Regions from separate parts of the Homo sapiens genome. Here regions 1, 2 and 3 are each linked to region 4. The links come from fine-mapping of genetic effects on gene expression. A gene starts in region 4. Each other region holds a variant in brackets. All regions are shown on one strand. Distances are between the middles of the regions.

Region 1 (2,688 bases), 74 kb before region 4:
TGGCTTATGCCTGTAATCCCAGCACTTTGGGAGGCCGAGGGAGGTGGATAACTTGAGGCCAGGAGTTTGAGACCAGCCTGGCAAACATGGTGAAACCCCGTCTCTACTAAAAATACAAAAATTAGCCAGGCGTGGTGGCACATCCCTGTAACCTCAGCTACTCAGGAGGCTGAGGCGCAAGAATGGCTTAAACTTGGGAGGCAGAGGTTGCAGTGAGCCAAGATCATGCCACTGCACTCCAACCTGGGTGACAGAGTGAGACTCTGTCTCAATAATAATAATAATAATTAGTAAGTTGGTCTAGAGTATACAGCCTGACTCTTTCTTCTAAAATGAATTTGTTTTCTCTCAGGAATGTCCTTAGACTCATTTAACTGGACTCTGGGTGGTCCATTCAACATCTTCCCAGATAGACCCAGACCCAGCATTCCATCTACATGTAGCCCTTGAAATTTTGCTACTGTACTACTCCTTTCTTTTCAGTCAGATTTCTTTTCACTCAGTAATTGGACTGACCCCTTCTCTTTCTCTTTTAAGAGTTGTTGATCACATTTGGAGTTCAATGACACTACTGTTTTGCTTTACTGTTGGAAGTTGGGAGAGACTAATTACTCATTCCTCCTTATTTATCAGTTCCAACCAATTTATAAATAGACTCAAGGAGTCAAGTTAGGAACAAAGTGCAGTACTGGCAAAGTTGATTTGGGTAGCGTGCAGAGATACTCTACCTTTTACTCCAGGTTGAACTTACCCACCACTGAGATTAAAAAGCTGGAAAAACATAGACCTTCTCAGCAGCTGAAAATCTAAGGCAACTATAAAATATCAGGCTGTATAGAGCCGTTCCATCTGAAGTCAAGCAAGTCCAAGAGAAGAAAAACAAGCGAGGCATTTAGCACAAGCCATTGGCACATTAGACCCATCCAGTAGTGACCCAATGAACATCTGCTTCTCACCAATATCCTACTTCAGAATGTTGAGGTATGACCAAGGGGATATGAGGAGTAGGGTCCCCCTCTCCATGTACTCTAGAGCATGTTCATCACCTCCCTTTCTTCCATACCCACTGTCCTTGGCTCAAGGACAAAATCGAGTTTTCAAGAAGACCTAAGGGGTCTTCTGTTCTAAAGGAATAGAAATTTCAGGAGCAGCAATATGGAATTAAACTCCTTCTTTTTGGTTCTCTCCATCTTTCTTTCTTCCTAGGCAGCTGGAGGGTATTTGGGGTTAAGTAAGGGGCTCCTGCTTGAGAAGTTCTTCTCTTGAAGGTCTAATAGACAATGGGGTGGGGCCCAGGAGAAAAAGGGCCTGGAGCTAGCCTTCAG[T/G]CCTGCCTATCTGGACCTTAAGTTAATGGGGGTAAACAGAGTCTGTAAATTTTCCATGTCTGTCCACTCCACCAGGATTAGAAATTAAAGAGACTTGGACCTAAAACATAAGTGAATATTTAAAAGTTAGCATTTGCCAGTAATAATAACTTAGATGGACATGCCTACAGAACCACGTGGAAGCATCCCAGGTAGGCATTCAGAGTAGGAGGAGCCCAGTCATCAACCTGCTTTTCTTGGAGACCAGCATTTGACCACAGATGAGCCTTGTCTAAAGCACATGTGTAAGTTTCCAAATATATCCAGCATTAGCATTAACCCCAACTGTATTATCATAGGATGATGACTTGTTCTTCAGCCAAGATTGTGGGCCATTTTCATCTCTGCACACTCATGTAAAAACAGTGGGGTTTGGACACATGCTTGACTGCTCCTAACACAAATACTAGCCACTATTTTGGAAACCTGACAGTTGCTTTTCAGATTCTTTTCTAGTGGCCTAATGTTACAGTCTTAGAGAAACTTATTAAGGAATGATTACCTCATTTGAGTCTTTAATAGTCTTCAACCTCTTTTTATAGATATTGACTTGCAACTCCCTCATAGAAGTATCATAATATGATTATGTTCCTTAAGTCCAACAGCTGCCCTTTACCATCAAGAAAACTGAGGCCTAGAACATTGGTGCATTACCTTCTTAAAGATCTCAGTTGACTTATCTGATTTATTTCAAATTTCCCCAAGCTATGAAGTTTGGTTCTATTGTGACATTGTTATCTTGGAGTCTACACAAATTTTCATTTTGGATGTGTGAAATTCTGCCTATTAGTCACTTCTTTTGAAAGGTGGAGAGTAGAAAGAAAGGGAGAAGAAGCAAATTTATTGCTGATTATAAATTGAGTCCTGCTTAATAAAATCCATATTCTGGCTTCATAAACTTTCTGCTAAAAGTCCTAATTAGCAGCAGATGGTTTTGAGATTCAGGAGACAAATTTACTTTCCAAATTCCCATTAGAAATTAGTTGGAATCCTTGATTTTTATCTTTTTCTTTTGCTTGTTTGAATTTCTAACTTTTCCATAGAGAACATGAATTACATGAATAATTTAAACTGTTGTATAAAAGCTACTAAATACTGTGAACAAGTTCAAACATTTGAAAATGTTAACCCCATAAGAGGACTGTCTGTATAGAAGAGATGCCCCGCACTGAATCTGAATACAGCCTTGGAATTATTTTTTAAAGTTCTATCATTTGCAGAACTATCATACTGCAGTTATATACTATATACATATAGCTTTAAAGCTAGGTCTGTTGGGCTAATATGGCAGTGTGAATTCATTTTTGAAAAGTCACTGTGCTCC
Region 2 (2,688 bases), 30 kb before region 4:
TATCCTAGGTCTTGGTTTTCAAAGACAGCCAGGCAGTGAGGATCGGTGTGATAATAATAGTGGCTACCATTTATTGTGCACCTACTGTGTACCTAGCATCAGTTATATCGAGAGAGAGAGAAAAAAAACAAGAATTGCAGGGAAAACATGCCCTTTTGAGTGGTGAAAAGAAGCAAGAATAGAGAGCTGAGATCCAATCTAAGATGTGAAAATGGAAGAAATCAGTTTTCTTAGAAAAGAGAAAAATATTTTAAAGTGCTAAAGTATAGTTACATTTATTTTAAATTATTTCATTATGTTTGTATTATGTGATCATACTCTACCATATATATGTGTGTGTATATATATATGTATGTGTGTGTATATATGTGTGTGTGTATATATACATATATATCCATGTAAATGTATTTGTTAAAGTTCTAGAGGGACAGACACCTGCTGATAGCTGTGGTTTCCTCTAGGGAGTGGAGTAACTAAGTGACAGATACTCAAAGGAGACATAACTTACATGATCACGTTCAGTCTGCAGCGAGAAAAGGGGGTGATATCATTGAGGACTTTCTGTTGGCCTCTATTTATGTATTATTTTTATAACTGCATATTCATGTGTATACCAGTAAGAAGAAATACAGCACTTCGATTATTTTATCAGTGAGAATTAGAATTCAATATAAAGAATTTTTAGCTAGAGATTAAAGAATTGACAAGGCAAAAAAGGGGCCACTGAAATGTAGCAGAAATAATAACTGCAGAAAGTAGTCACCACTTCAGGCTGGGGAACAAAGGGAGAAGGTTGGGCTTGTTAGGATCTCAGAGGACAGATTCTGATCTTTGAAAAGCGGGTGTCCGCAGAGGCTGGGAAAACTGCACACTGGAATCAACTGCCTTTGCTGGGGTGAAGGGCTATGGCTGGGAAACCCTAACAGGAACAGGAAGCAACTGGTTCTTTCTCTTCCTTCCACCATGCTGTCTCCCCTTGGCGCCCTCTAATGGAGACAAATGGCTGAGCTTCCTTCTAAGTCCCACGGGCATGTGTGTGGCTTATTGATGAACCTCCCAATTAAGCTGTGCTGCAAACTCTACCGATCTAGGTGGATGACATTAACAAGTTAGCT[C/T]TATCATAGTCATAGGAGTCAGAAGTAGCCCTAAAGAAGTTAGAAATGAACCTGGCGCTTATGTATATAACTAGGTACGTTGGTTTGGTATAGAATACACACAAGACCCCAATTTTTTTTTATTCTATTTGTGGCCCTCTCCACTAATTAACTGGACAATTCTATAGAAACCACATAATGTCTTTCAAAATAACCATAGTAAGAATTAATTCCAGTATAGCACTTAACGATGTGACAGACACTAAGTGTTTTATGTATGTTAACTAATTTAATCCTTGTGACAACTCTACAAGGAGCAGGACTGTTAAGTAACTCATCCAAGGTCACTAATAGTAAGGGGCAGTCCAGGAAGTGGGCCCGACCATCTGATATAGAGATTATCTCTTTATTATCAAGCTTTGCTGCCTCTCACTTACATTGGGCTTATCATATGCCAGGTATGGCTCTACTCCCTTAAAATATAGAACAATCCTCTAAGGTAGGAACCATCATCCCCATTTTACAGATGAGGAAAACAAAGCCTGAAGGGCTATGAAACCCTCTGGCCTCCATTTCTCTGGCTGTTAAGTAAGGAGGCTGGACCAGCAGAAGTAAAAAGCTGGTTCTGTAAGACACTAGGAAAGAGCCCAAGTGTCCTGGCTCAAACACAACTAGAAAGAAAGACTCCCTTTATGTCTTTATAGACCCCCTGACCTCAGAGGATTGATGATAAAACAGTCTTGTATATGAGTACTAAAATTGCCAACTCAACAGAGGTTTTTATTCCCCGCTGTCTATTCTCCTGCCAGGAATTAGATGGGAAATAAAAAAAAGGGAATTAACAGCTTTAAAAAAAATCATTTAGGAAAATCTGTTTCTTGCTGTTGGCAAGTAGCTCTCTGGTCATAGCCGCATCTGAGTATATTCAGACTCCCTTAACATTAAACGGGAGTGTGGGGGTGAGGGATAACACACCCTTTTTATTGCTTTGCTTTTTCCCATTTTTATTTTCTGCTTGACTTTAATAGTTTCAGTCTAACACCAGCCTTTGAAATGGGTTAGTATTGTCACAGTGGAAAGGCCCAGAGCCCAGGGAAGCTGAAGACCTTGCCTGAGGACACCCACCTGGTGAGAACTGAGCTGGGATTTGAACTTGTGATTTTTACCTAAAGTGACAGTATCAGGACTGCCAAGACAAAAATTGATCTTGTGTTAGAAATTCTGTTTTTTAAATAAAAACTTTCCTATCACTGTGTAAGCTTATAACTCTTGACAAGCCAAGGATAGGGACATTGTTAAACTGCCAGCCCCTCAGCCAAGTGAGCTGACATCATTGCATCCCTGACAGACTCATGATAGCAAGTCACAGGCCATCCACGCACCATGCTGATGCCATTTGAGGTCCATAAGTGTTTAACATCCCCAGGACCTACACACCACGTGAGGGAACGGGCATGTGGAATATGGCAGTACCTGCAAGAGCCACAGGAATGGAGTGATTTTATAAGGATGGACACCTGTTTTCTTCGAAATGTTCCTATGCAGCGGGGGAAGAAAGTCCTCCTGGGCAAAAGCAAGTCCTCTCTGTTCTCCA
Region 3 (2,688 bases), 20 kb before region 4:
AATGGCCAACAGGCATATGAAAAGGTGCTCAACATCATTAATCATCAGAGAAATGCAAATCAAAACTACAATTAGATACCATCTCACCCCAGTTAAAATGGCGTTTATCCAAAAGTCAGGCAATAACAAATGCTAGCAAGGATGTGGAGAAAAGAGAAGCCTTATACACTGTTGGTGGGACTGTATATTAGTACAACCACTATGGAGAACAGTTTGGAAGTTTTTCAAAAAACTAAAAATCCTACCATAGGATCCAGCAATCCCACCCATAGGTATATACCCAAAAGAAAGGAAATCAGTATATCAAAGAGATATCTACCCTTCCATATTTATTGCAGCAGTATTCACAATAGCCAAGATTTGGAAGCAACCTGTATCCACCAGCAGATGAACAGATAAAGAAAATATGGTACATATATACAATGGAGTACTATTCAGCCATAAAAAAGAATGAGATCCTGTCATTGGTAACAAGATGGATGGAACTAGAGGTCATTATGTTAAGTGAAATAAGCCAGGCACAGAGAAGTAAGTTTTGCATGTTCTCACTTATTTGTGGGAGCTAAAAATTAAAATAATTGAACTCATGGAGATAGAGAGTAGAAGGATGGTTACCAGAGTCTATGAAGGCAGAGATAGGAAAGTGGGGATGTGATAGGAAAGTGGGGATGGTTGGTGGGCACAAAAAAAATAGTTAGAAAGAATGAATAAGATCTAGTATTTGCTAGCACAACAAAATGACTAAAGTAAAAAATAATTTAATTGTACATTTTGAAAACACTAAAGGAGTATAATTGGATTATTTGTAACACAAAGGATAAATGCTTGAGATGATTGATACCTCATTTACCCTGATGTGATTATTATGCATTGCATGCCTGTGTCAAAATGTCTCATGTAATCCATATATTCACCTGCTATGTACCCACAAAAATTAAAAATAAATTAAAAACTTTATGTAAGAATTAGCTTAGCAAGGCCAGGCATGTTGGCTCACACCTGTAATCCCAGCATTTTGGGAGGCCAAGGTGGGTGAATTGCTTCAGTCCAGGAGTTACAGATTAGCCTGGGCAAAATGGTGAAATCCCATCTCTACAAAACAAAACAAAACAAAATGCAAACAATTAGCCAGGTGTGGTGGTGTGTGCCTGTAGTCCCAGCTACTCAGGAGGCTGAGGTGGGAGGA[T/C]CACCTGAGCCTGGGAGATCACCTGAGCCTTGGTGAGCTGTGATTGCACCACTGTACTCCAGCCTCGGTGACAGAGTGAGACCCTATCTCAAAGAAAGAAAAAATAGCTAGGCAATATTTAGGGCTATTTCCAGACCGCAGTTAGAAGCCACCATGGTCTGTCAGTGAAGCTGGGGAAAGCAAGTCTGTCAGCTATTTGGCAGGGTCTGTGTGGCTTCATGACTCAAGTAACCCAATTAGGGCAAATTGCTAGAAGCCTATAGCCAATATTCATTCTCCCCCTCCTCCTCAGTTTTAGGACCTCTAGTTTTATTTGAGGCAACAAAATGTACCCAGCTAAACAACTATATTTCTCAGCCTCACCTTCCCAATTACATGTGACCATATGACTAATTCCTGGCTGATGAAATTAAGTGGAAATGTTTTTTGTGCCTTCTGGGAAAGCATCTTAAAAGACAGCTGATGTATATACCCCTTGCCTGTTCTTTTCTTTCCTCCGTTCTGCTCCATGGAATATGGATATGAGAGCTGGAGCTCTACAAGCCATTTTTTAATATAAGGACACATATCATGCCCTAAAGAAGATAGTTGTGACTAGAAGGAGCCTAGATCTCTGAGGACTCTGTGGAGTTGGCATACAAGCCCCAAAGCATCATATCTCTGAATCTCTATTAGTGTAAGAGGAAACAACTACTTCTATATTATTTAAGCCATAATATTTAAAAGTTTTTGTTTCGTGCAGTTATTTAATAGAAGTAATCCTAAACAGTATGCCAATCATTTGCATAATCTGCCCACATTGTGAAATTAAAATGGCCAATATCAAGTACTCTTACAAGGTCTTATGTAAGTTTCTTAAAATTTGAGATAATGAACAATTTATAATAATATTGACATAACCAATTTTGTTGTTATTGTTGTTTTAGAAACAAGGTTTCACTATGTTGCCCAGACTACTGCTAACCTCAAACTCCCACACTCAAGCAATCCTCCTGCCTCAGCCTTCAGAGTAGCTGGGATTACAGGCGTAAGCCACTGCTTCCTCCTAGGTGACCCCATTAATCTAATGAGTGTGTTAGCACACCTTAGCAGATCTCATCAAATGGAGATAATGGATTCAAGGGCTCTATAGCCTTTCTCACTTAAACTGGTTTAGACATCTGCAATCATTGTTACACTGAACGAGTGATTCTCATCTCCAGACCCCCATAGCAGAGTAGTCAATAATGCTCAGTTAATAATGTGTAACTAAAACACCTGGAAAGTCTCTCTCTTGATCTCTGTGATGTAAAACCGTGTGCTTTTTCTGCATGTGGTAATCATTATTGCATCTCACCAAATACTTCTTACCCTCTGCCTTCCAGGAACATGGCAGATTTGTACTTCCTGGGTCCCTATGGTTGAGTGAGACCATGTTCTGGCGAAATAATTGTATCACTTCCAGGTTCACCCTTCAGAGTTGTCTTTTCCATTTGCTATCATAGCCGGTAGTGGCTTCCCAT
Region 4 (2,676 bases):
TCTTACCCATTTATTAATGTATTCAGCAAACATTCATGGAGTGCCTACTATGTGCCAGGCATTGTCTTGCCCACTTTGTAAATTTGAAAATTATGTTCAGACAAGATGAGCCATATAGCTTTTTCTTTCTGAGACAGGGCCTGGCTCTGTATCCCAGGCTGGAGTGCAATGGCACGATCACAGCTCACTACAACGTCCAACTCCTGGGTTCAAGCGATCCTCCCCTTCAGCCTCCCAAGTAGCTGAGACTACAGGCGTGTACCACCATTCCCGGCCCAGAAGCTTACTTTAAGTCAAGCAATGGCTGGAAGGCTCTATGTCTGGGCCACTAATCACGTTTGATCACTTGTATCCCAGTGAAGAAAACTCACTGCTAAGCACTTCTGCGAGCAATAGTTGAACTCATTAGAGACGGATAGGTCAATCAGGGAAATAAACAAACCTGCTTCGCTCCCTCGGAGAACTCTGTGATGCTGAACTCTTTGTCGAAATAGGCCCAGATAAGGAAGGCCTTAATTCGAGTCCTAACCCAGTTGATGGGGTTGGAGAATCCCAGGACGATCATCTTGGTTTTCTGGTGCTGCTGGGGCTTCTCCTCCGTGCTGTAGCTGCGCTGAGGGCAGGCAGGGAAAGAAGCGAAGGCTGCGGGGAGTCCCGGGCTGCTGAGCACTGGCCACCGGGAGCCCTGGGCAGGTAGCGCCGAGGCTGCCAAGGCCCTAGCGCTTCGTGGAAATAACGCCGCTCCCAAGCCGAGGCGACAGCGGCAGAAGTAGCAAAGTGTGGCCGACGGCAGCCTCACCTCGGCCACAGCAGGAGTCCGGAGTCGGACGGCCCCGCAGGGCAGCGACCGAGAGTGCAGGAACTGGGGTAGCAAACGAGCGGCCAGCGCCATTTTTATGACCCTTCACACCGGTGCCTGCCGGTGCTGTATGGAAAGGAAGTCGGTGGGAAACCGCCTCAGCGGTGTCGGAGAAAGAGACTGGAGAGCAAAGTGGACCTGTTGCTGCAGCCTCTGGTGAGTCGGCCCCGTCCCCGCTCTCCAGCACGCAGCCCAGGCCGAGGCCCTTCGGCAACCCGCCCCGCGCTCGGACCCAGCCACTCTGGAGTCTGCCGGCCTCGCGGACCTTTTCTCTGTCGCTCGTGTTTCCGGGCGGATGGCGCTGAGGAACGCTTTAGAGCCGAAGTTCCGAAGACCTGGAAGAGGGCAGGCGTGAGCAACCATGGCCGGGCAGCACCTCCCGGTACCCCGGCTGGAGGGCGTTTCTCGGGAGCAGTTCATGCAGCACCTCTACCCACAGGTGAGGCCCTCGCGCGGGGCAGAACCTCGAGAAACCAGCGAGAGACACGTCTTTACCTTTCGGACAGCTGGGAACTGGTTTTTAGAGACCCAGGGTGTGGGAAAGAGGCGCAGGACGGCAGCAGATCACTGGTTGGCCCTTAGACCAAGGGAAAGGTGCACGGGGGACGCCGACTGGCTCCTCTATTGAAATTTCCGGAGAAAGTCCCATGTTTCTGGGGAGCAAGATGATGGCGGAGAGCTGAGTGCGAGAGGTATTTTGCCTAAACTCTTTACTCCGCATCTGTCAGTCTGCTCCGAATTAATGGATTTGAAGGCACAACTTTTCACTCCACTGAGCCAAAAAGGAAAGCAATGGGATTCCCCCGGAAAACTCCTACTCGTCTTGAATTCTAACTTACTTAGGTTCTAGTTCCGACATTGGAGTCTTTTATACCTGTAGTTAGAACCTTAGGTCTTTAAAAGAAAACTCATAGAGAAATATTAGGGAAACAAAAAGTGCTTTTACTTGCAGTGCTTTTCAAGGGAGTCCAGACCTAAGAAAAACAAGGTATTAAAAGGAAAAATCCACAGGATTACAGTAAGTCAGTTTATGGTAGGAAAAATACCCAGCAATTTTCTTACCTGATATTTACATTTATAAGGGTGGTCATAGAATTACAGTTCTGGGGCCGGGCGCGGTGGCTCACGCCTGTAATCCCAGCACTTTGCGAGGCCGAGGCGGACGGATCACCGGAGGTCAGGAGTTCAAGACCAGCCAGTAGAAATCCCATCTCTACTAAAAATACAAAATTAGCCGGGCATGGTGGTGGCCCATACCTGTAATCCCAGCTACTCGGGAGGCTGAGGCAGGAGAATCGCTTGAACCCGGGAGGCGGAGGTTGCAGTGAGCCGAGATCGCGCCACTGCACTCCAGCCTGGGCAACAAGAGCTAAACTCGGTCTCAAACAAACAAACAAAACTACAATTCTGAGTGTTACAAAAGTCGGATGGGCTGGGCGCCGTGGTTCATGCCAGTAATCCTAACATTTTGGGAGGCCCAGGTCGGTGGATCACTTGAGGTCAGGAGTTCAAGACCAGCCTGGCCAATATGGTGAATCCCCGTCTGTACAAAAAATACAAAAATTAGCCGGGCGTGGTGGCGCACGCCTGTATTCCCAGCTACTCTGGAGGCTGAGGTCGGAGGATCTGCTTGAGCCCGGGAGGTCGAGGCTGCAGTGATCCATGATCCTGCCACTGCTCCAGCATGGGCGAGAGGGTGAGACCCTAGCTTAAAAAAAAAAAAGGCGGGGTTGGGGGGATGCGGGAGGAATGAAGTTTTTCTTTTGATAGCAACCTACGGGAGAGGATTCAAGCCTTTATTAGTTTGGAGACTTGTA

Alleles and levels. Alleles are on the strand shown, and positions count from the first base shown. SD is a standard deviation of normalised expression in the study named. Not every link is listed here.
With allele G in place of T in region 1, the expression in monocytes after Pam3CSK4 of the gene that starts at base 1,200 in region 4 is lower (moderate effect, 0.55 SD a copy in Quach 2016).
With allele T in place of C in region 2, the expression in fibroblasts of the gene that starts at base 1,200 in region 4 is higher (small effect, 0.29 SD a copy in GTEx).

The links. PIP is the estimated chance that this variant, and not a neighbour inherited with it, causes the effect.
Region 1: its variant is the best candidate, but not a certain one, in a credible set for the expression of TYW5 in monocytes after Pam3CSK4 (Quach 2016, PIP 0.53).
Region 2: its variant is the best candidate, but not a certain one, in a credible set for the expression of TYW5 in fibroblasts (GTEx, PIP 0.53).
Region 3: its variant is the best candidate, but not a certain one, in a credible set for the expression of TYW5 in whole blood (INTERVAL, PIP 0.54).

Annotation. Positions count from the first base shown.
Region 1 is chr2:200,028,198-200,030,885 of GRCh38, reverse strand. All of the region lies in intron 1 of LOC124906112 (a long non-coding RNA gene), which reads left to right. Among named protein-coding and RNA genes, the nearest start is that of MAIP1, 74 kb to the right of the region's middle. The variant T/G (reference allele first, on the strand shown) is at 1,326.
Region 2 is chr2:199,984,107-199,986,794 of GRCh38, reverse strand. The region is part of intron 2 of LOC124906112 (a long non-coding RNA gene); the gene reads left to right. Among named protein-coding and RNA genes, the nearest start is that of MAIP1, 30 kb to the right of the region's middle. The variant C/T (reference allele first, on the strand shown) is at 1,116.
Region 3 is chr2:199,974,388-199,977,075 of GRCh38, reverse strand. The region is part of intron 2 of LOC124906112 (a long non-coding RNA gene); the gene reads left to right. Among named protein-coding and RNA genes, the nearest start is that of MAIP1, 20 kb to the right of the region's middle. The variant T/C (reference allele first, on the strand shown) is at 1,187.
Region 4 is chr2:199,954,015-199,956,690 of GRCh38, reverse strand. It overlaps TYW5 (tRNA-yW synthesizing protein 5), which reads left to right and starts at 1,200. Exons shown (of 8, transcript NM_001039693.3): 1 at 1,200-1,298. The coding sequence starts at 1,221. MAIP1 (matrix AAA peptidase interacting protein 1) reads right to left here and starts at 1,109. Exons shown (of 5, transcript NM_001394955.1): 1 at 443-1,109. The coding sequence starts at 892. RefSeq lists enhancers at 677-776, 797-956, 1,127-1,246, 357-1,556.